4 linked regions of the Homo sapiens genome follow. The protein of the gene in region 4 purifies or fractionates together with the protein of the main gene of each other region. This does not show direct contact. Each region holds a gene or a part of one and is shown on either strand. Other genes may lie near its edges. The genes, in order: CLGN, MIPEP, OS9 and FOXRED2.

Evidence for each region.
Region 1: the proteins of FOXRED2 (region 4) and CLGN purify together in Homo sapiens (co-immunoprecipitation; 2 studies listed by BioGRID and IntAct, with this or other methods). This does not show direct contact.
Region 2: the proteins of FOXRED2 (region 4) and MIPEP purify together in Homo sapiens (affinity purification with mass spectrometry; 2 studies listed by BioGRID and IntAct, with this or other methods). This does not show direct contact.
Region 3: the proteins of FOXRED2 (region 4) and OS9 purify together in Homo sapiens (affinity purification with western blotting; 2 studies listed by BioGRID and IntAct, with this or other methods). This does not show direct contact.

What each region holds. Positions count from the first base shown.
Region 1 is NC_000004.12:140,396,555-140,403,736, reverse strand, and holds part of CLGN (calmegin precursor), read left to right. Parts: intron 1-1,670; coding exon 1,671-1,752; intron 1,753-3,187; coding exon 3,188-3,380; intron 3,381-4,696; coding exon 4,697-4,886; intron 4,887-7,182. UniProt on the Homo sapiens protein: Functions during spermatogenesis as a chaperone for a range of client proteins that are important for sperm adhesion onto the egg zona pellucida and for subsequent penetration of the zona pellucida.
Region 2 is NC_000013.11:23,729,606-23,732,499, reverse strand, and holds the end of MIPEP (mitochondrial intermediate peptidase), read left to right. Parts: intron 1-2,054; coding exon 2,055-2,152; 3' UTR 2,153-2,311; downstream 2,312-2,894. UniProt on the Homo sapiens protein: Cleaves proteins, imported into the mitochondrion, to their mature size.
Region 3 is NC_000012.12:57,711,100-57,718,281, reverse strand, and holds part of OS9 (protein OS-9 isoform 1 precursor), read right to left. Parts: intron 2,523-7,182; coding exon 2,312-2,522; intron 2,194-2,311; coding exon of another isoform or gene 2,191-2,193; coding exon 2,089-2,190; intron 1,871-2,088; coding exon 1,770-1,870; intron 1,590-1,769; coding exon 1,538-1,589; intron 413-1,537; coding exon 324-412; intron 137-323; coding exon 1-136. UniProt on the Homo sapiens protein: Lectin component of the HRD1 complex, which functions in endoplasmic reticulum (ER) quality control and ER-associated degradation (ERAD).
Region 4 is NC_000022.11:36,496,896-36,504,077, reverse strand, and holds part of FOXRED2 (FAD-dependent oxidoreductase domain-containing protein 2 isoform 1 precursor), read left to right. Parts: intron 1-2,670; coding exon 2,671-2,837; intron 2,838-5,921; coding exon 5,922-6,087; exon of another isoform or gene 6,088-6,223; intron 6,224-6,340; exon of another isoform or gene 6,341-6,520; intron 6,521-7,182.

The sequences.
Region 1 (7,182 bases), on a different chromosome or scaffold from region 4:
TAAGAAATGGACAAGGTGATTGAATCTAGGCATAATGGAACAATGAAACTGTGTTCACATTTATGCAGCCACTGTACAAAATTGTTTTTTCCAATTCTTACCTTTTTACAGAATGCTCTGTCCTGAGATAATCTATTATAAAGCAAAATCTTTTTAATTTTTTTTCTAAAAACAGTGACCTTTAAGTCATATCATGCACCACGTGTTCTACTTATAGTCTTCAAATACTTAAATTCCATGAAAAACAAAATTTTGTCAGCTATTGCTTAAAATAAAGATAAGACTTTGAGGAAAACAAACTGTCCTCTATTTAAAAAATGAAAAAGAACGAAAGAATACCTTCCTTCTGATTATCATAGAAGCATTTTGAGCATGTATTTGCCCCTCATTGGGCATGATATCCTTTAATCATCATAACAATCCTTTGAGGTGTAAGTATGGGCCATGTCTGCATATTATAGATGAGCAAATAGAGACTTAGAGCTTAAATGACTTGCCGTTACCCAAGGAGTCACTAGAGTAAGTGGCAGAATCAAGAATAACTCTCAGGTCATTTTGACTTTAAAGTACATGCTTGTGGCCACTGTTGTAGATAGCTTAAGAAATAAAGCATGGTAAAAAGTATAGGAGAAAATCACCCCTTTCAAATCAGAGATACTTAAAATTTTGTTTCCTTTTTTTTAATACAAAATATGTACACCAATTGAGTTCAAACTGTTAAAATTTTGTATACTATCATGTTTTACCTTCTTGTCACTAAATTTCTTCAGAAACATTTACAACTATAGTCCTTTATTAAAATGATCATTATTTCTGGTTATTTCTCTAGTTTTCATGTCTTTTTGATTTAATTCATTTAATGAAATCATAACCTTTTTTGTTTTTACTGTTTGACAGCCATTTCCTTGTTGATTTTTGTCACATATAATTCGTTAATTTAACAACAAAAAATCTCGTAAGTCTATGCCTCATTGCCATAGCAAGGCTATTTCCTTTTAAAGTTACCAATAAAGAAAAAAAAACTTTGCTGAGAATTACACTGTGTTGTAAATTCATAAGAGACTCTCATGTTCATTCTTTTAGCTGTTATACTAAACAGTGAAAATTTCCCATATCTCCTGGCTGTTTAGGTCTGAAATCCAGCTTATTGACTGAGATTATGAATCTCTTTGCTGGAGCTATTTAATTAAATGTACAACTTATTTAACATGGTAAGGTGTAATGAACTCTAGGTATCTAAGATCATTAGCAATTTCGTAGAAATCTTGCTGTAGCTGTGGTTCTTACGGCCTTTATTTTTTTTTAGTTTATAAAGTGTAAGTATAGTGCTTACCTTATCAGAATTTGAAATTTCCTGTTGTAGTTTTAGTTACAGTATCTTATGCTTAATTTATCAGTTTTGATGGAAAAAAATTTAAACAAATTGATTGGTTTGTCTGCAGTTGATTGTAATCATTCTATTTTTAATATTTTAATGATGTGTCTTGTTTTAGAGTAGTAGAAAAGCGTTTCTGCTTATTTCCTATAGGTTGTAGATATGCTTTATATGAGTTTTCTGATAATGTAAAAAAATTTATACTTACATGAATTGAGAATAATAAGATTATATTTTAAAGAGCAACTAGTAAATTTTATTTATCAGTAGTACGGTTCTTTTTCCCTTTATTCAGATATGAAGTAAATTTTCAAGATGGTATTGATTGTGGAGGTGCATACATTAAACTCCTAGCAGACACTGATGATTTGATTCTGGTATGATATTTTAATATTTAAGAAAACCTTATTAAAGTTAATAAGTATTTTTAAGGAACAAATGATAAAACTGAATATTTTGTCTTCAACTGAAATTGAAAAGAATTGTAGATATCTTTTTTCAATGTGAATTTACATAGCTCTTACAATTCGCCTTCAAGTTTTATATAAAGCTGTGTTACTTGAAGGCATCAATTTTATAATCTTTAACAACATGAAAAAGTTTACCATGTCTGTAGGACAAAAACTACGTGATACTTATAAATTTCTTTTGAAATATAGCTTAGAGTTATTTTCTTTACAGAATAAGACTCTTAAGTTTGTTTAGAGAAGCATAACAAAGCATAGCAGTGAAACAAAATGGCCGAAGAACCAAATTAAAAGGGGTTAGCAACCCACAGAAAGTAACTAATTTTAAAAACTTTTCATGATGAAATAGGTTTATACTTCTAAGAGGTTGTATTAGGACCATTGGAAAGTTGGGGATATTTCTTATAGCCTTCTCCTGTAAAAGGCTGTTTCAGACTTTCTGCATATAACAGAAATACGATAGATGAGACATCAGGGGTATATTTTTCAGAACACTTAGCTGTACATAAGCTATGAAATGTAGATGGGAGACTTTTTCATGTACTACTCATTATTATTAGGATCAAGTGAAGGAGAGGCCATTGGAGTATATGTTGAAGCTCTTGTTTTAGATGAACACTTGAAGGTAGGATGACAAAAAAATCTAATGCCAAGTATTTCTATAAGCACTTTATCTGATTAATTCACTTAATCCTTAGAGAACTCTTATAAGGTAGGTACTATTATCATCTCCATACTTCAGAGGTGATGAAATGGAGGTGCAGAGAGCTTTAAAAAATTTGAGTCAGGGTGACACCCAACTAGTTTAAGAGGCAGTGGTAGGATTTGAACCCCAGTATCTGACTCCATGCCCCATGCTGTTAACCACTATGCCATGCCAAATAAAGAGAAATTCATGTCCTCGTGTCTGTTTTTATGTCTGAATGAATCTCTCTTCATCTTGTGCTCAGAGGGTCATTTTCTGGTATCTTCCTAAGTAATAGTAATGGGTGATAATTTTAGTCTTAAGGCCATAAATATGCTTTCCTCTAATGCCTAATTCTCTCAATAAAAATATTAGTAATATAGATTTACATAGAGAGTTAAAGCATATTATGGTGTTGCTAGAGTATTTTCAGCTTCTGTCCCACATCGTCAGGAAGTAGTGTGTACTTAAAAAAATCTATATTGAAGTAAAATTTGTCATTTTCCCATGTCCTTTATTGTCACTTGTATTAAATAGCTAGCTCTCTGGTGAATTACCATTTAATATATTTTTGTAAACTCTACCCATTGGATAAAATACAGAAATGCATTAAATAGTCTGTGATTCTGGACTAATGCCAACACTCATCTCTCTTTGAAGGAAAACTTTTATGATAAAACATCCTATATCATTATGTTTGGACCAGATAAATGTGGAGAAGATTATAAACTTCATTTTATCTTCAGACATAAACATCCCAAAACTGGAGTTTTCGAAGAGAAACATGCCAAACCTCCAGATGTAGACCTTAAAAAGTTCTTTACAGACAGGAAGACTCATCTTTATACCCTTGGTATACCCTTTTAATTCATTCATGTATTCAAAAATATTTGCTGACTATTGATGTATTCATGGCAAGTGCTTTACAAGAAAACAAATGTGTACCCCATCCTGAAGGAGCTTATCTTTTTCAGAAAATAGGACATGTATAATGACAGCACGGGTAGAAAATAAAGTACCATATAAGAAAGAGAGATGAGGCACAGCTAAGAGTTCACAAGCAATATTACTTCCAGCTTAGAGACTTGGAACAAAGCTAGGAAAGATTATATTTGAACTCGTCTTGAAGTACAGATAGAATGTTGAAGACAGTAGGGTGAAAGGACATTTTAGACGTTGTGACAGTGGTGCTGTAAGAACAGAAAACTAGAAAATAAAAAGGAAGAGGCCAGAACAGAAAACTAAAAAATAAAAAGGAAGAGGCCCTTAATGCCAGACTAAAAAGTTTAGACTTTATTCTGTAGGCAGTTGTGATTATTGTTATGTCCTACCTTGTGTTGGTTGTGGCATGTACTTCGAAAGGAGAAGCATTGAGCAGCCATATATTAATATACTTAAGTAAATAGGAATTTGCATAGATATGGGGGTGAGGGACATCATAAGCAGTTGTTTCTCCCATTCTCAAGTATAATGGCTGTAGAGCTCTGGTCAGCCCACTATCAAAATCAGAGCATATTGGAACCTAATAGGACATTTTGAAATGGCCCTATTGGCTTCCTTTCTCACGTCTCAACTCCACCCAAGATTAAAGTATTTCAATCTTTTTCCCCAAATGCTGCAGTGGTAGAAACATTCATTTTGTCTGCTCGGGCAATGCCCATTTCATCTTCAATATCAGATGTGATATAATAAATATCTTTATGAAATAATTGAAAAAACTAGGCATTTGGGGGAACACCAAGTAAACTGTAGAAATAATGAGAAAATATTACTAGAACAGAATAAATTAATTTTTTGTTATACTTACAACACTTTAAGATGGTATCAAAAAAATTAAATGCTGAAAAAGATTAGCTTGTATTTTGTAACTATAAAAGAGTGAAGCTGACTCGTTATGAGTCCCAAAACAGAGCTATTTGGTATTATTTTTTATTTGAGAAGTAATGGAGCATTTTATTGTAAAAAATGCAGTTTAAAACAAAATTTTATCTTTAGGAAATGTATCTAGTGATTTTAGAATGTTTTAGTTCAATACATTGGTTATTCCTCTATTTCTGGTTGGGAAAAAAGCTTTACCCATGGAGTTAAGGGTAGTTACATTATTTAGAAGATTATCTTTAAAGCGTATATCAAAATGATAACTATAATTTATTTAAATTGGTCCCTTAGTGATGAATCCAGATGACACATTTGAGGTGTTAGTTGATCAAACAGTTGTAAACAAAGGAAGCCTCCTAGAGGATGTGGTTCCTCCTATCAAACCTCCCAAAGAAATTGAAGATCCCAATGATAAAAAACCTGAGGAATGGGATGAAAGAGCAAAAATTCCTGATCCTTCTGCCGTCAAACCAGAAGACTGGTAAGCAAATAATTCGGTAGCAAAGCATTATCTGGCATAACTAGGTAATGAAACAACATATAAGTGAAGTTTACAACCCATGAAGTTTATTTTTTTAAACATCAGAACTACTTATTTTTAGTATTTTGGGTGAAATATTTTCTAAAATGGATTTTACACTTCCCTCCCTGTAATTTTTTTTTATTTCTATTGATAATTATGTTGCATTTTTTAATATATATTTATTTTTTATGTTTTCAATGCTGTGGATTAAAAATTTCATAAATCCAAAATACCAGTGCTTTAATTTTCATTCCTAGTTTGATCTTTATTGTATGTGTGTGAGAGTCCGAGGTGGGCAGATCACCTGAGGTCAGGAGTTCGAAACCAGCTTGGCCAACATGGCGAAACCCCGTCTCTACTAAAAACACAAAAATTAGCGGGCATGGCGGCGGGTGCCTGTAATCCCAGCTACTCGGGAGGCTGAGGCAGGAGAATTGCTTGAACCCAGGAGGCAGAGGCTGCAGTGAGCCCAAGGTCGTGCCACTGCACTCCAGCCTGGTGACAGAGCAAGATTCTGTCTCAAAAAAAAAAAAAAAAAAAAAAAAGAGTATGTTTGCCCTTAAATGAGAGAAACCACATATAACTGCTTCATTCTGATTGTTGAAATGTGTTAGAATTTGTTTTACAAAGTACTAAAAGAAATGCTCCATTAAATTTTAACTTTTGGTTACTCTGAGCACTCAGAAACTCAAGATGACATTGGTATCAGGCAAGCACAAATCTATACATTTGTAAAGTTGATTATTTCTGTTTATTTTGTAACTCATTTGGAAAATCATGAAGTGTCCTCTTGTTTAAAATTTCTATCTTTCTGTAATGATGAAAATTGTATTAGTAGTTCAGTACTTTATGTTTATATACTTCAGAATTTACTAAGTGTTTTGTTTTTGTTTTTGTTTTTGTTTGAGATGGAATCTCGCTCTGTCACCCAGGTTAGAATGCAATGGCGTGATCTCAGTTCACTGCAGCCTCTGCCTCCTGGGTTCAAGGGATTCTCCTGCCTCAGCCTCATGAGTAGGTGGGATTACAGGCAAGCGCCACCACGCCCGGCTAATTTTTGTATTTTTAGTAGAGATGGGATTTCACCATGTTGGTCAGGCTGGTCTCGAACTCCCGATCTCGTGATCCTCCCGCCTCAGCCTCCCAAAGTGCTGAGACTACAGGCTTGAGCCACCACGCCAGCCTAAGTGTTCTTTTTAAAATAAGAATGCTAGAATTAAATAAGGAGAGTTTTAAAAATTATATTGGAATAGGGAAGAACTTTCCAAATATGACATAAAATCCAAGAATCCTTTAAAAATAAGTTCAACTACATGAAAATAAATGATTTGTATATTGCAAAAAAAAAAACCTCCCTAAACTATTTCAAAAAACACACAAGAACCAGGAAAAATTATTTTCAATCATATAGCTGACAGAGAGCTAATTTCTTAGTATAAAGGTAATGAGCTAAGAAAAAATAGTTTTTGTGTATCACTTATGCTACTAAATGTACATTCAAAGTTCAGTGAGATACCATTTTTCACCTACCACATGGGCAGAAATCAAGAAGTTTGGTAACACTCTTCGCAAGGACAGGAGAAAATAGGTACTTTTGCATGCTGCTGGTAGAACCGGAAGTGGAGTGTAACCATTATAGAGAGTAATTTGGATGCTACTATCAAAATTTAAAATGTCCATACTCTTAACAATTATATTTTCACAGATGAGAAATGGCATATATTCTAGGACATTCACTATGGCATTGTTTGTATTAATAATAGTAAAATTTTGGAAACACTAAATGTCCTCCAAGAGGAGATAAGCTAAATAAATTATGGTGTATCCTCAAGTAGAAAACTATGCAACTGTTAAGAATGAAGCTATGTGTATATATATATATGTGTATATATATATATATACATATATATATATATACATATATATATATATATGTATATATATATGCTCCAGCCAGGCATGGTGGCTCATGCCTGTAATCCCAGCACTTTGGGGGGCTGAGGTGGGTGGATCACCTGACGTTAGGAGTTCAAGACCAACCTGGCCAACATAGTGAAACCCCATCTCTACTAAAAATACAAAAACTTAGCCAGGCGTGGTGGCAGGTGCCTGTAATCCCAGCTACTCTGGAGGCTGAGGCAGGAGAATTGCTTGAACCCGGAAGGCAGAGGTTGCAGTGAGCTGAGGTCGCACTATTGCACTCCAGCCTGGGAAACAAGAACAAGACTCCACCTCAAGAAAAAAATAATAATAA
Region 2 (2,894 bases), on a different chromosome or scaffold from region 4:
GCTTGGGGTTGTACAAGTTGTTTCTTTGTTGACATATGCTTTCATTTCTCTTGGATAAATACCTGGGAGTGAAATTGCTGGGTCCTAGTGTAGGTCTATGTTTAGTTTCGTAAGACACTGGTTAAGACCTTTTTTCAAAGTGATTGTATCATTTTATCCTTTCACCACAAATGTATGACAATTCAGGTTGCACACAGCCTTGTCAACATTTGGTGTAGCACAGTGGCTCACGCCTGTAATCCCAGCACTTTGAGAGGCCAAGGCAGGAGGATCGCTTGAGCCCAGAAGTTCAAGACCAGCCTGGGCAACATGACAAGACCCCATCTCTACAAGAAGTTTAAAAACTAGCTGGGCATGGTGGCACACACCTGTGGTTCCAGCTACTCTCAAGCTGAGACGGGAGGATCACTTCAGCCTGGGAAGTCGAGGCTGCAGTGAGCCATGTTCACACCACTGCACATGCTGTGTTGTCCAGGCCTGGACAACAGAGCAAGACCTTGTCTTTAAAAAAAAAAAAAAAAAAAAAAAAAATTAGCTATTCTGGTGGATGTGTAATAGTATCTCATTGTGGGTTTGGTTTTCATTTCCCTAGTGACTAATGATGTTGAATGTCTTCTCAGTGCCTATTAGTTGTGTTACTTATTCAGATATCTTCTGTGAAAAACCTGACCTTGTGAAGGTAAAATCTTTTGTCAATTTGTAATTTAAAAAAACATATTTTTACAATGGGTCAAAGGAGTTCTTTATATTTTCTGGATACCAGTCTTACGTGAGATATGTTTTGTGAGTATTTTTTCCAACTATCATTTGTCTACTCATTGGCTTAATGGTTTCTTTTCAAGAGACATTTTAAATTTTGATGAAATCTAACATTTTTTCCTTTTATGCATTGCTTTCTGTGTCCTAAGAAACTATACCTACTTCAGGGTCACAAAGATACTTCATGCGGTTTTTTTAAGATAATAATTTTAGTGTTTACACTTAGGTCTGTGACCATCTCAAATTAGTTTTTATGTATGGTATGCAGTAGGAGTCAAGGCTAGTTTTCTGCCGTATGGATATGCAGTTCTGCCCAGCCGACTACTCTCACTCTTCATGTTGTGACTGAGCCTGCCCACCTGTATGCCCATGACCTGGCCTGATCCTTTACACACAACAGATGCTTCCTTCATGTTCACTGAATTGCAATACAGGTTCAGAGAACAATAGAGGATTCCTGCAATCTTTTAATGCCTTGATTTTGAAAATGGTTTTACAGAATTCATCTCCCAAAGTAAATATCAGTATATAGAGCCTGTTCAACCCTTCAGTTAGCATTTCCTGCCAAGAATGTAGGTTAAAGCAATAAGGTTAATTGCATCAATCTTTGTTTTTGGCTTCTTTAGAGTGAAGAAAGGACATGAATTCAGCTTTTTATTGAATTCTTAATATATGCTAGGCATGGTGCTTCATTGCTTCTACTACATCTTCTTGTTTGATCCTTATAGCAACCTTGTAGGAAATTTGGATGCCAGAGATTTTAAGTGACTTCTGCGTTACACAGTTACTAAGTTGCAAAGCTAGGAGTTCTCTGGGACAGGGAAATCTGGAGGAGAGCCAATAACTTGATTCTGATATAAGATTTCTATAAAAGAATTAACATCTAATTGATTGTAAAGTGTATAGAACTTGATAACAAAACTTGATATGTAATTAAACTTGTTAAATTGTGAATCATCCCAGTCAAAGATAACTAAAAAAAAATCAGTCTTCTAATATCAGTCTCTAAGGGTATAGTCATATATGCAAAAATAATAGCCCTTAGGAAATATATTTAGGCCTAAATCTCTAAGCTAAGGATGGATTTGATAGTAAAAATACATTAAAATTATAAATAGCTCCAAGGCCCACACACTGCCCATGACTTTATAAAATGTTCTTGCATTCAGGTTATACAGCCAGAGTCTTAATTCAGAAAGCCAGAGTGTTCCTCTAGTGTGTGGATTTGATTTTGTGTCTTTGTGCTTCCTGTTGCCTCCTGGTGAACGCAGTTCTGACCTTTCCTTTGTTTGCAGGTATGCTTCAGAAGTGTCCTTCTGTTGATGACTTCGTAAGTGCCCTCGTTTCCGACTTGGATCTGGACTTCGAAACTTTCCTCATGGATTCTGAATAAAAGAAACACTCTACACCTCTTAAATCAAGGTCATGTAGATAATGACTTTGTTATAAATGCTACAGCTGTGAGAGCTTGTTTCTGATTTCATTGTTCGCTTCTGTAATTCTGAAAAACTTTAAACTGGTAGAACTTGGAATAAATAATTTGTTTTAATTATTCTGGCTTTTCACCTGTTTGGCAAATATTTGAGCACATGGAAATCTCTGACCTAGTAACAACAACACTTCTACATGGCATTGTTAAATGGAGGGTATGGGCATTTCCTTAGTATAACCACTCTCCTGTTGAGCTTTTCCCTCTTTCCATGGATCTTTAATTGGTTTAATTAAATAATTAACTAAAAGCAAAATTGTTTAAGACAGAGTTTGAAGCAGTCTTCAGACAGGTTACACTTATAGTTCTTTTAAGAATGATGACCATTTCTTAAGACCACTATCTAAAGTAGGCTTAGAAAATGCACTTTAAATAGTCAATTACAGGCAACCAACAAACCAAGTGTGGTTTCCAAAATACATGTAATTATCTGTACTGTTTTTTCCTGAATGTTTAGGCAAATAGACTCAGAACACAGAGGACTGGCTTGGCAATGAAGGTAGAATGAGTAAGTGCAGGTACAATTAATAAGTGACATACCAGTGTCAAGCAACTGGTGAATCAGGAAACAGACCATGTCTGTTTTTATCTGGAACTCATTTGCTTTACAGTATTGCATACCATACTGTATTTTGGTTAATATCAG
Region 3 (7,182 bases), on a different chromosome or scaffold from region 4:
CCTCATCCTCATCCTCATCCTCCTCTTCTTCCATCTCTCTCTGCCGTTCTGGATCACCCCTTTCCTTCTCTGGTTCCCTCTGAGGGACTTCTGCAGCATCATCCACAGGCTGCTCTTGGCCTATATTTGGCTTCCCCTGGGTGGGTAGGGAGTGGGGAGAAAGACAGTTGGGGTTTCAACAGAGACACATGGTCGGGGGCAGACAAACAGTAGCAGGTGTGTGGTACTGGGGGACCCAGGAGTTGAGTCCCAGGTCAGGGTAGTTTTTCAAATGCTCGCAGTTGGGAGGTGGGTTCTACCCATTCCCTAAGCACGGCCTATACCTTTTTTGTTCCACCTTTCAGCTCCTCTATGAATCGAATCAAATCCGCAGGGCTTCGAATGACTTTGACCTGCACGTTGTTCTGAAAATCTGAGATGAAAGAATAATAATCATGAACCTGTTCTGTTGTGTTTAAATTCTTTTTTTTTTTTTTTTTTTTTTTTTTTGAGACAGAGTCTTGCACTGTCACCCAAGCTGGAGCACAGTGGTGCAATCTCTGCTCACTGCAACCTCTGCCTCCCGGGTTCAAGAGATTCTCCTGCCTCAGCCTCCCAAGTAGCTGGGATTACAGGCGCCTGCCACCACACCCAGCTAATTTTTGTATTTTTAGTAGAGATGGGGTTTCACCATGTTGGCCAGGTTTGTCTTGAACTCTTGACCTCAGGTGATCCACCTGCCTCAGCCTCCCAAAGTGCTGGGATTACAGGCATGAGCCACCACGCCCGGCTCTTTTTCTTTTTCAACATGGTGTGTTACTATGTTGCCCAAGATGATCTTGAACTCCTGGGCTCAAGCAATCTTCCTGCATCAGCCTTCCAAGTAACTAGGATTACAGGTGTGCGCTACTGCGCTCCTAAATTCTCTCTGGATTCCTAAGGACAGGTAATGAGAGACCAAGGAAGGACATGGTCCCTGCCTCTAGGATTTACCTGTTTGACAGTGAGACAAGGGCAAATATTCGCCTGCAGAGAGCACCATCCTAAGGTGGACACTCTGGTAGGAGAGATGGATGCTAACAAGCTGCTAAGTCCCCACTCTTCCATGCACTTCTGAGGCCCTTCTGGCAGTCACTCTAGCTTTTAGGACTACAGAGGAGATCCTGGGGCTAAGGGCTTGTCTTCCCTGGAACCCTTCTCCTCTTTCCACAAATATTAACCATTTAGTTTATTCAGTTCCAGGCCTTCTACTGTGAATTATGGATGCATTCTCATTTAATCCCATGCAACCCTCTAAGGTAGGGGTTATTACCCTCATTTTATGGGTAAGAAAATTGAGGTTAAGTGAATTACAAAGTCACCAAGTGGTGGAGCCACTGTGTTCTGCCACCTTGCTAAAATAGCAGTGCTGTCTACAAAGAGTATTAACTCCTATAAAAATGAATTTTCTGCCGGCCTGGCTACCCAACCTCCCTCCCAGGCTTAGCTCTCCCCTCCATCCCTACCCCTGCCAATCCTAAAATATATTCAGTAAAGGAGACATGGAAGGTTCACTCACCATTGGGAGCACCAGAAGCTGAATCTGCTGCCTCAGGGCTTGGGTCCTGCTCCTGACGAGGAGAAAAGGAGAGAGTCAAGTATGAAAGCCTGTTCATGCCCTCCATACTATGAAGGCAAAGGTTCTGGGGATATCCTTGCATCCCTAGGTAGATGTAGGTCACCTCACAATGGCCCCAGCTGCAGTGACCCTCCCCATCCCCATCCTGCTCCTCTGAGGCAGCTGGTCTCACCTCAGCCGGCACCTCCTCCCCTCCTGGGGCCTGGTCCTCTGGCTCATTAAGCATCTTCCAGAAATCTGAGTCCTTACTGTCATCCTTGGTCGGGCTCGCACCTAGGGTACAGAGAACAGGGAGAGACTGATCTGACAGGAGGGGTGAGACAGAAGGGAGCAAATAGGATGGGGTCCCTTCCCCTCCTCTATCACCAAGGGAGGAGGGCCCATGGTACTTTTCCACCCCCCCCCACCCCACCAGTCAGTCAGGACAGTAAGATCAGGGGAAGGGAAGAAATGGAAGTGAGTTTCACGGAACAGGTGAAACAAGGTCCTACCTGCCATCTTTTGGGGTGCCACCCCAGACTTGGTCTCACTCCACACTTGGGGGCCTAGATCTTGCAGCTCCTCTATGATTTTATCTCCATACTGCTTTGAGTCTACTGAGAAACAGCATGCAAGCAGGCCAGGAACACATTCCTCCAGCTATTCAATACTTGATCTTTTGCCACCCCCTGCCCCCGTATCTCCCCGTCTTCTCCTCCTTCTCTAATTACTCACCGGCTTGCCTCTGAACGTAGGCCATGTACTCCTCAGGCTGTAGGGAAGGGTGACAGAGGATGGCCTGCGGTGCAGCACTGGGTGGGGGCCGGAGGAGAGGGTGGGGGCAGAGCCGAGGAGTGCGAATGGTCAGCACATAAGAGCAGGACAAGGGCTCGTCCACGCGATCGATGTAGTCCCCAGAGATACCTGCACCCTCGTCACAGAGGAACTGCCAGGACAGAAAGGATGAATACACTTAATCACCAACAATAATTTGCTTTAGTTATTAGAGCAGGTGTCTTTTACTAAGCACTGATTATCTGTCAAGCATTGTGCATACACTGTGCATATGGCACTTTACATAAATTGGCTCACTTATCACAAAGACCCAGTGAGGCGATATTGGTTTCTCAACTTCGTGCCTCAAGAAACAGGTGTGGTGCAGTTAAGGCACTTGTTCAGGTTGACCAGCCTTTAAGTGGTAAAAACAGGAACTGAATTCAGGCAGCTTAACTGTAGGTAACCAATTTATGTTTCATATTCTTGTTTTGTATAAATATTGTGTGTGTGTATATATATACTTTTATTTGCTTCATATATGTATTATTATTATTATTATTATTTTTGAGATGGAGTCTCACTCTGTCATCCAGGCTGGAGTGCAATGGCATGATCTCAGCTCACTGCAACCTCCGCCTCCTGGGTTCAAGCGATTCTCCGGCCTCAGCCTCCCGAGGAGCTGGGATTACAGGCACCTGCCATCATGCCTGGCTAATTTTTGTATTTTTGTAGAGACAGGGTTTCACCATGTTAGCCCAGCTGGTCTTGAACTCCTGACCTCAGGTGATCCACCCACCTTGGCCTCCCAAAGTGCTGGGGTTACAGGCATGAGCCACAAGGCCTGGCCTGTATTTTTTTTAAAGTGTATATATATTTGTATATAAATATGTAATTTTTATATATGTGCATATGGTAAAAAACTTCAAACAATTCTAAGATTCTTATATCATTCAGAAAGAGGGTAAAGAGATTGATTGGCCTTTGATAAATTAAGCATGCAATATTCTAATTTCTAAAATAACTATTAAAAGTAAGAGAGGCTGGTGGTTCACACCTGTAATCCCAACACTTTGGGAGGCCAAGGCAGGAGGATGGCTTGATGCCAAAAATTCAAGACCAGCCTTGGCAACATAGTGAGACTCATCTCCACAAAAAATTTTTAAAAATTAGCGAGGTGTGGTGGTGTGCACCTGTAGTCTTAGCAACTTGGGAGACTGAGGCAGGAAGATCCCTTAAGCCCAGGAGTTCAAAGTTACAGTGAGCTATGATCATGCCACACTGCATTCCAACCCGTGTGGAAAGCAAGACCTTGTCTCAAAAACAAAAAGTGGGAGCGGTCCTACTTCTGAAATGGCAGCATGAGGGATTTCGCACACTCCACAGGGAAACTCCATTACTGATGAAAATTTAAAAACACAAAGCATGGCTGGGCGCGGTGGCTCACACCTGTAATCCCAGCACTTTGGGAGGCCGAGGCAGGTGGATCACCTGAGGTCAGGAATTCGAGACAAGCCTGACCAACATGGAGAAACCCCATCTCTACTAAAAATACAAAATTAGCCAGCCTTGTGGCACATGCCTGTAATCCCAGCTACTCGGGAGGCTGAGGCAGGAGAATTGCTTGAACCTGGGAGGCCAAGGTTGCGGTGAGCCGAGATCGCACCATTGCACTCCAGCCTGGGCAACAAGAGTGAAACTCTGTCTCAATACAAACAAACAAACAAACATAAAGCATTTAAACTCTTTGGAAATTTTCCTAAGGACATATAACAAATGAAGAAATGTTTACTCAAGAAAATCTACTAAATCTTTTTTTTTTTTTCAGACAGGGTCTCACTGTGTCACCCAGGCTGGAGTGCAGTGGCATGATCACAGCTCACTGAAGCCTCAACCTCCTAGGTCCAAGCAATCTTCCCACTTCAACCTCCCAAGGTAGGACTACAGGTGTGTGCCACCATATCCAACTAATTTTTACAAATTTTTTTGTAGAGACAGGGTCCCGCTATGTTGTCCAGGCTTTCCAGGGCTCAAGCAATCCTCCCACCCAAAGTGCTGGTATTACAGGTGTGAGCCACCATGCCCAGCTACTAAATCTTGAATAGTGAGAATTTGCAGCACTTGAACCATGACATGCTCCCTCAATCTATGCCCCAAACCCCTACCCCACAGCTCAGTTAGACTAAAGCTCCACTCCAGCAGGTAAGCGTAGTTAAAAAAAAAAAAAAAAAAAGTGGGGTGGGGCGGTGGAGGGGGAGGGACTTCCTATTCTCTCAACATCCAGTCATGAGATATGATATATGGTATTTTACCAGGAGGGCCACCAGCTCCAAGATACAGCAACTAAATTCCTGAAAAAGATCAAGGGCTCCCTTCCTCCACTCAGCCCCACCCACAGGGCAGAGGCTTTACCTCAAGTGCAGTGGGACAAAAGTATCGGGGCCCTGATTGCCCTCACGGAAGCTTGCTCAGAGAGTGGAGGTTTCACAAAAGGAGATGCAAACCGAGAGAGCAGAGGTTGTCATCCCTGCCTAGCTCCCTGCTCATAAAGCAGGAATGTCCTTCCAAGTGAAGCAAGCCATTATTCCTGACCCCAACTCCAGAGCAGGGCCTCGGGGATTTTGCCCAGGGGGAGAGGCAGTCCGTAAGAATACAGGGCTCCAAAACATTCTCCAAAGGACCTGACTTAATATGAAACAGAGTATGGGGAAATTCAAGCCTATAGGCACTTCAAAAATGTAGAGATTTTGGCAGGAGGCAATTAAAAGGAGGCTGATTGCTCCATGATAGCAACAGGCTAAACCTTGGGACAGCTAGTTTAACAGAGAGAACCAGGGAAAGGGCAACTGAGAGCCGTCCTGGACTCAGAACAAACCTATATATTGCCCTCAAAAACTAGCCCGACAAAGGGGCCCACAATTAACTGGACTAAACTATGGAACAACTTATGCCCCACATGTCAAAAACAATAAAGCAATTAGTTGGCAATGAATGGAGCCTAACAGCTGGGGGTGATACCAGCAGAGGCAGATGGCTTAACAAATTCATGAAAGAAACAGTCAAAAAGCCTGCTGAAACCACTGTCATCTAGTGTGGCTGTGTGCAGGGCCAAGACCGTGCACTCTGAGAAGAGACACTAGAGGCTTCATGTTGTGAGGGGGAGACTGAATGCAAGTAGTGCAGCCAAGTCACTGAACAAATGAACAAACAAAAGCCATGGGGTGGAGGGCAGGAATTTCTATCTGGAGTTACTACAACATACTATCTAAAATGTCTGATTTTCAACAATTATGAAACATGCAGAAACAGTAAAGTATGAAACATATATAGGAAAATATGCAGGCAACAGAAACCACCTGTGAGAGGGCCCAGATGTTGGATCTCACAAAGAGTTAAAAGTAGCCATTATATTAATAAATATATTCAAAGAATTAAGAATTTAAGTCACACAAAGTGTGTTCTCTGACCATAATGGAATAAAATTAGAAATGAATGAGGAAAAAAATTTGGAAATTCAGAAATATGTAGAAATTAAACAATATACTCATTAAGTAACCAGTGAGTTAAAGGAAAAAAATCAAAAGAAAACTATAAAATACCTCAAAAATGAACGAAAATGAAGACATAACATATCCAAACTTACAGGATGCAGCTGAAGTAGTGCTTAGAGGGAAATTCATAGCTATAAACATCAATTTTTTAAAAACAAAATCTTGACTCCATAATCTACCCTTCTATCTTAAGAAACTAGAAAAAGAAGAACACACTAAACCAAGAGCCAGCAGAGGGAAAGACTACAGACTAGGACAAAAATAAATGAAATAGAGAACAGGAATACCATCCTATGTGTCCAAAGACAGGGAACCACAGATACACCTTTGTAGGGAGTTTATATATGTTTTTAAGTTTCTGTAATAAAAAGTTTAAAAAAGACAATCTTTAAATATCCATAACTTGCACCTGGCAATTATGCTTTTTTTGCTTACTTTCTTTTTCTTCTTTTTTAATAGATGCAGGGTCTTGCTCTGTTGCCCAGGCTGGTCTCAAACTCCTGGGCTCAAGTGATCCTCTCTCCTCAGCCTCCCAAAGTGTTGGGAATATTGGCATTAGCCACTGTGCCCAGCCCAATTATATGTAAGATATATTTACACATGCATATATGTACAATGTAATAATCATTTGTGACAACAAAAGAATTGGGGGTGGAACTATTTCAACCAGTAGAATAATGGTGACAAAATGATGGAACACACAATGGAATTTTATGCAGCTATAAAAACAAAAAAGGGCCAGGCATGGTGGCTCATGCCTATAATCCCAGCACTTTGGGAGGCCAAGGAGGGCAGATCACGAGGTCAAGAGATCAAGGCCATCCTGGTCAACATGGTGAAACTCCATCTCTACTAACAATACAAAAATTAGCTGGGTGTGGTGGCGCACACCTGTAGTCCCAGCTACTCGGGAGGCTGAGGCAGGTGAATCCCTTGAACCCGGGAGGTGGAGGTTGCAGTGAGCAGAGATCGCGCCACTGCACTCCAGCCTGGGTAACAGAGCAAGACTCCGTCTCAAAAAAAAAAAAAAAAAAAAAAAAAAGATATACTGCCATTGAAAGATCTCTCTAAGGTTTATTGTCCAGGGAAATAAAAGCAAGGTATAGAACAGTGTGTTTAATTTACTATATATTGTTTATAAATAAAGGGGAAAGGAAATAAGAATCTCCATTCATAATTGTTTGTAATCACACAAAAAGGCTGGAAGGATACATGCAAAACTAAGACCAGGGTTAACCTGTGGGGCTGGAGCAGGGATGGCGGGGAGAGAATGGGAAATGA
Region 4 (7,182 bases):
GGTGGGCTCTCCTAGCAAACCCTCCTGACCCCTCCCTAGGGGAACAGGGTGGCTGTTCAGTAGGCTGGCGACAGAGCTCTCAGGACAGCACCCAAAGAATGGATGTGAGTGCTGCCTGATTTCCCTCCAGGACATGAGCTCTGACCATTGAGGGTCCCAGGTGGCCCTGAGGCCCTTGGTCCTGGAGCAACACCAGCAGATCTTCATCAGCATTGGGAGCCTCCACCTGTGAGTTGGAAAGGCCGGCTCAGAGAGAATACAGAGGGGAATTTGCTCGAAGGCAATATAGCGTAGTGGCTGAGAGCACAGGTGCCGGAATTGTCCTGAGATTCTCTGCTTGCCAAATCTGTGACCTCGGCGGAAGTTATTTAACCACGCTGTGGCCCAGTATTCTCATGTCTAAAATGGGATTCAAAGTTTGTTTCTCATATGGTTATTGCGAGGATTAACATAAGAATATGCTTGGAGGCTGGGTGCGGTGGCTCACACCTGTAATCCCAGCACTTAGGGAGGCCGAGACAGGTGGATCACTTGAGGTTAGGAGTTCGAGACCAGCCTGGCCAACATGGTGAAACCCCATCTCTACTAAAAATACAAAAATTTAACCAAGCGTGGTGGTGGGTGCCTGTAATCCCAGCTACTCAGGAGGCTGAGGTGGGAGAATTGCTGGAACCTGGGAAGCAGAAGTTGCAGTGAGCCGAGATCACACCACTGCACTCCAGCCTGGGTGACGAGACTCTTATCTCAAAAAAAAAAAAAAAGAAAGAAGAATGTGTGCAGAGGCCAGGTGCAGTGGCTCATGGTCTCACACCTATAATCCCAGCACTTTGGGAGGCCAAGGCAGGCATACTACTTCAGCTCAGGAGTTCAAGACTAGCCTGGACAACATGGTGAAACCCCACCTCTACAAAAAATACAAAAATTAGCCAGGTGTGTTGGCACATGCCTGTGGTCCCAGCTACTCAGGAGGCCAAGGTGGGAGGACTACTTGAGCCCAGGAGGTCGAGGCTGTGGTGAACTAAGATCATGCCTCTGCATTCCAGCCTGGGCAACAGAGTGAGACCCTGTCTCAAAAAAAAAAAGAGATGGCTGGTCACAGTAGCTCATGCTGTAATCCCAGCACTTTGGGAGGCTGAGGTGGGCGGATCACAAGGTTAGGAGTTCAAGACCAGCCTGACCAATGTAGCGAAACCCCGTCTCTACCAAAAATACAAAAAATTAGCCAGGCATGGTGGCACGTGCCGGTAATCCCAGCTACTCGGGAGGCTGAGGCAAGAGAATCGCCTGAACCTGGGAGGTGGAGGTTGCAGTGAGCCGAGATCGCGCCATTGTGGACTCCAGCCCAGGCGACAGTGCAAGATCTCCATCTCAAAAACAAAAAAAGAGAGAGGAGAGAAGGAAGGAGAGAGAGGGGAGAAAGAAAGGAAAGAAAGTGCTGGGAGCTAGGTGCAGTGATGAGTACCTAGCTACTCAGGAGGCTGAGGCAGGAGGATCACTGGAGCCCAGGAGGTCAAGGCTACAGTGTGCTATGATCATGCCTGTGAATAGCTGCTGCACTCCAACCTGGGCAACATAATGAGACCCTATCTCTTAAAATAAAGAAAGTACTTGGCATGTATTATGTGCTCAATAAAATGTTAGTTGCTTAAGTTATTTATCATTGTATTTTGAAGGGCTATTTTATGAAGCCTAGATTTTAAACATTGCTGCCGACTACCTCGGGAGGTTTGGTATCAAAGCAGCATCCAGTCTTTCACTTGTCTTCTGACCAGGGTGCAGAAAGACAAAGGAGAAGCTGGTGTGCCTGTCCAGACCCTCCTTTCCATCGGCCTCCCAAAGTGCTAGGATTACAGGCGTGAGCCACTGTGCCTGGCCTGACTTCATTGTTTGTTTGTTTGTTTGTTTGTTTGAGACAGAGTCTTACTCTGTTGCCCAGGCTGGAGTGCAATGGCATAATCTCGGCTCACTGCAACCTCTGCCTCCTAGGTTCAAGCGATTCTCCTGCCTCAGTCTCCTGAGTAGCTGAGATTACAGCCATTGCACCACCACCCCCAGCTAACTCTTTTTGTATTTTTTCATAGCGACAGGGTTTCACTGTGTTGGCCAGGCTGGTCTCGAACTCCTGACCTTGTGACTCGCCCGCCTCGGCCTACCAAAGTGCTGGGATTACAGGCGTGAGCCACCTCGCCTGGCCGACTTCATCTCTTAAATGGAGATGATAATACCCACCTCCTGGGGTCATGGTGAGGTTTAAATGAGACGAGAAATCTAAGGCACTCAGTGCCAGTAATAAGTGCCACTGTAATAAGTGCCTCCTGGCTGGGTGCAGTGGCTCGCGCTTGTAATCCCAGCACTTTGGGAGGCCAAGGCAGACAGATCACCTAAGGTCAGGACATCGAGACCAGGCTGGCTAACGTGGTGAAACCTGGTCTCTACTAAAAATACAAAAATTAGCTGGGCATGGTGGCAGGAGCCTATAATCCCAGCTACTCGGGAGGCTCAGGCAGGATAATAGTTTGAACCCAGGAGGCAGAGGTTGCAGTGAGCCGAGATCACGCCATTGTACTCTAACCTGGGCGACAAGAGCGAAACTCCATCTCAAAACTAACTAAATAAATAAGTGCCTCTTACATAGCAGCTATTTTCATGAACAGCCCTTTCCACTGACAGGTCCCTCAGACTTAACTCGGGAAATGCATTCGGCAAGAAGTACCCGCTGATTCGAGCTAGCTACGAATCCAAAGGAAGCCGGGGTCTGTTTATCCTGGGTACTGCCAGCCACTCGGTGGACTACCGGAAATCTGCTGGGGGCTTCATCCACGGATTCCGATACACAGGTGAGCCCAGCTGAGAAGGCAGAACTGTCCCCAGACGGAACCACTCTCAGCATCCCAGGGTTTATAAATCTACTCCTATGTCCAGAAGCATTAGGGGATTGCTTGTCAGTAGCTCATTGTCATAAATTGTCTTGGGGAAGTGACAACAGGTTTTTGTGGTCTGACGACATGTTTAGGAAAGTATCAGATAAAGTGTAAAAGTCCACGCCTGTAGTCCTAGCTACTTGGGAGGCTGAGGCAGGAGGATCCCTTGAGTCCAGGAAGTCAAGGTTGCAGTGAGCCATGATGATACCACTGCACTCCAGCCTGGGTGACAGAGCGAGACTTGGTCTCAAAAATAAAATAAAATTAAGTGTAGGCCAGGTGCAATGGCTCACGCCTGTAATCCTAGCACTTTGGGAGGCCAAGGCAGGTGGATTGCTTCAGGCCAGGAGTTCAAGACCAGCCTGGGCAACACGGCGAAACCCTGTCTCTACTAAAAATACAAAAATTAGCCAGGTGTGGTGGCGTGCGCCTGCAGTCCCAGCTACTCGGGAGGCTGAGGCAGGAGAATCACTTGAACCCAGGAGGTGGAGGTTGCGGTGAGCTGAGATCGCACCATTGCACTCCAGCCTGGGCAACAAGAGCAAAACTCCATCTCAAAAAAAAAAAAAAAAATGTAATTGGATTATATCAGTTCTTTTTCAAAACTCTCAGTACCAAGGGTATAAATTTTCTGCCAACTTGAGAATGTTTACAAAGAAAATACTAAAATATCTTTTAAAAACATAATTCTATTTATTGCACTAAAATAATCCCCAACCAAAAATTGATACTTGTGATTTTAGGAGTAAATGGGAAATAAAAAGGAAGTGAGAGAGATGAATTCACGCATGTTGGGTGACTTCAGTGGGCTGAGCACTGAACACACGACCCTGGCAGGGCCGCCAGCACCCCGAAAGGTGGGTGTGAAATCTCCATTTTCCTCAAGAGTGTAAAACTCTGAGGCTCAGAGTTTTGGTGATTTTCTCACCATTATGGGAATTAAACTCCAAGGCCCAGGAGCTTTCCTGAAAGACACTTTCTACAAAGGTCTTCTCTTCTTTCATAGAAAGCAAACTGGTGCCCTTTCTGTGGAGAGGAGTCTAAAATGTTAGATGTGGCCAGGCACGGTGGGTCACACCTGTCATCCCAGCACTTTGGTAGACTGAGGTGGGTGGATCACCTGAGGGCAGGAGTTCGAGACCAGCCTGGCCAGTATGGTGAAATCCCACCTCTACTTAAAATACAAAATTAGCCGGGCATGGTGGCGGGCGCCTGTAATCCCAACTACTCGGGATGCTGAGGCAAGAGAATCACTTGAACCTTGGAGGTGGAGGTTGCAGTGAGCCAAGCCCACACCATTGCACTCCAGCCTGGGCAAAAAGAGTGAAACTCTGTCTCAAAAATAAATAAATAAATAAAAATTAGATGTTCCTGCTCCTGTGGTTAACCTTCTGAGAAGGACAGGGTGTTGGTTGAAATTCACTCAGTGAGGCATACAGTATTCAGTTAGGTGGTTAGGTGAGTCTATTTGAAAGAATGGAGTCATAATCTTACAGCTGAGCTTTAAAAAATTAGTATTATTATTTTTTTTGAGACAGCGTCTCTTCCTGTTTCCCATGCTGGAGTACAATGGCGCCATCTCGGCTCACTGCAGCCTCGACTTCCCAGACTCAAGCCATCCTCCCACCTCAGCCTTCTGAGTGGCTGGGACTTCAGGCGTGCACCACCACACCCAGCTAATTTTGTTGTTTTTATTTTTGTGTGGTAGAGACAAGTTTTCGCCATGTTGCCCAGGCTGGTCTCAAACTCCCAAGCTCAAGCGATCCACCCACCTCAGCCTCCCAAAGTGTTGGGATTACAGGCATGAGCCACCATGCCTAGCCTGAGCATCAAAAATGTGAAAATGTAGGGAATTACGGGGAGTAATCTTTATATTCTGCCACTCAAAGACATTCAATATTTATATTTCTTTTTTCTTTTTAAAGACAGTAAGGCAGGCTGGGCGTAGTGGCTCATGCCTATAATCCCAGCATTTTGGGAGGCTGAGGCTGGCAGATCAGCTTAGGTCAGAAGTTCGAGACCAGCCTGACCAACATGGTGAAACCCCATCTCTACTAAAAATACAAAAATTAGCCAGGCTTGTAATCCCTACTACTTGGGAGGCTGAGGCAGGAGAATCACTTCAATCCAGGAAGCAGAGGTTGCAGTGAGCCAAGATCGTGCCACTGCGCTCCAGCCTGGGCATCAGAGTGAGACTCTGTCTCAAAAATCATAATACAAATGAAGACGGTAAGGTGGACTTTATTCCAGGTTAGAGGACTACAATAATAAGTGTAGGGACCACTGCAGAGGGGTCTTACAGTACGGGCAAAGGATTGGACTCAATTCTGGGAGTCGGTTCCTCCTGGAACCCAGGAGGCGGAGGTCGCGGTGAGCCGAGATCGCACCACTGCACTCCAGCCTGGGCAACAGAGCGAGACCCTGTCTCAAAAAAATAAAATAAAAAATATTTAAAAAAAGAACTTAGAGACAGATGGATTTAGGCTGTGAAAGAGAGGGCGAAATCAAAGATTTCTGTAGGCGCGTCTCTGATGGAAACAGAGCTGTGAAGGGGGGGAGGTTTCTGGGGAAGGCTCCGTGTTGGACTTGACGTTCCTTGTGTGAGGTGGGGCCGGTGGGACTCCCACGTGCAGATGGCCTGAAGCAGGGGCAGATGGACTCTGGCCTGGAGACCAACTCCAGCTGTGCTCACTCCTTTGCCTGTTGTCTTGGCCGCTTTTACACTAGGGGCAGAATTGAGCAGCATCACTGAGTCGTGTATGACCCACAAAGCAGAGAATATGGATTGTCTGGCCCTTTCCAGAAAATACCTGCTGGCCCTGCTCTAAAGGCAGCTGCCATCTCCTCCCCTCATGTGTTCACCACCTAGGCGTTTGCGCTGGGCCATGGAGACCAGTGTGTATGGCGTTCTCAGGGGTCAATGAGGCCTGGGCATCCCTCCCAGTGACCAGAGATAAAATGGTAAGTGCAGCGTGCCGTTCCTCCCTCTGGCTGTTCCAGTGCGTGCTGTTCACCGGCTCCTGGAGCACCGCCACCACAGCGTCACCTGGCCCGCCACTGAGCTCCCCATCACACAGCTGACCAGCTCCATCGTGCGGCGCGTGAATGAGGCTTCTGGGCTCTACCAGATGTTCGGTGTGCTGGCCGATGTCATCCTGTTGAAGGAGTGAGTAGCCCGTCCCCACCCTACTCCCCTCGGCCCAGCTTTCCCGACGTGCTGCATAGCGCTTCTCTTCCTATTCCAGGTGTGAGGTGCCCAGTTCTTTCCTAAGATGAAGGCTGCTGTGGGGAACATGCCTGTTCTGGGGAAAAACAATGACATTAACTCTACAGACAGTCCTGTGAGTGGCCACGGGCACATTAGTGAGCCTCTCTGAGCCCTTCTTCCTCATCTGCAAAATGGGGATAATTGTGCCTACCTTGCAGCAGTAAAGGAAGGAGTAAAGGTCACTTGTGGAAAGTGTTTGGCATCACGTGGATGAGCAGTAGTCAGAGGCAGCCACGTGGATCTCAGAGCTCCCTCAGGCCAGGGCCTTGCCGGCCACCATCGTCAGAGTCAATTTAGTGATAAGCAGCAGATCCCAGAGGATGGACAGTTCCTGAGAAGGAAACGGTGCAGAGCACAGAGGGGTGAGGGGCGGGGGGAGACAGGTGGCAGGGAGAAGCAAGGGAGCAACCTTCAGTCAGAGGGAACAGCCCGATCCAAAGGCAGGGCGTGCTATAGCACACCAAGTTCAGGGACATGCAGGTAGTGCAGCCGCTTTCTGCACAAAACCCTCGCATCACCCTCCATGCCCCTGCCCCTCTTTTTTTTTTCTTGAGACAGTCTCGCTCTGTCATCCAGGCTGGAGTGCAGTGGTGCGATCTCTGCTCGCTGCAACATCTGCCTCCTGGGTTCAAGCACTTCTCCTGCCTCAGCCTCCTAAGTAGCTGGGATTACAGGCACCCACCACCATGCCTGGCTAATTTTTTTTTTTGACTCAGAGTCTCACTATGTCTTGCCCAGGCTGGAGTGCAGTGGTGCGATCTTGGCTCACTGCAGCCCACCTCCCAGGTTCAAGCGATTCTCGTGTCTCAGCCTCCCGAGTAGCTGGGATTACAGGCCCATGCCACCACACCTGGCTAATTTTGTATTTTTAGTAGAGACTAGGTTTCACCATGTTGGCTAGGCTGGTCTCAAACTCCTGACCTCAGGTGATCCACCCGCCTTGGTCTCCCAAAGTGCTGAGATTACAGGCGTGAGTCAGCACGCCTGGCACCC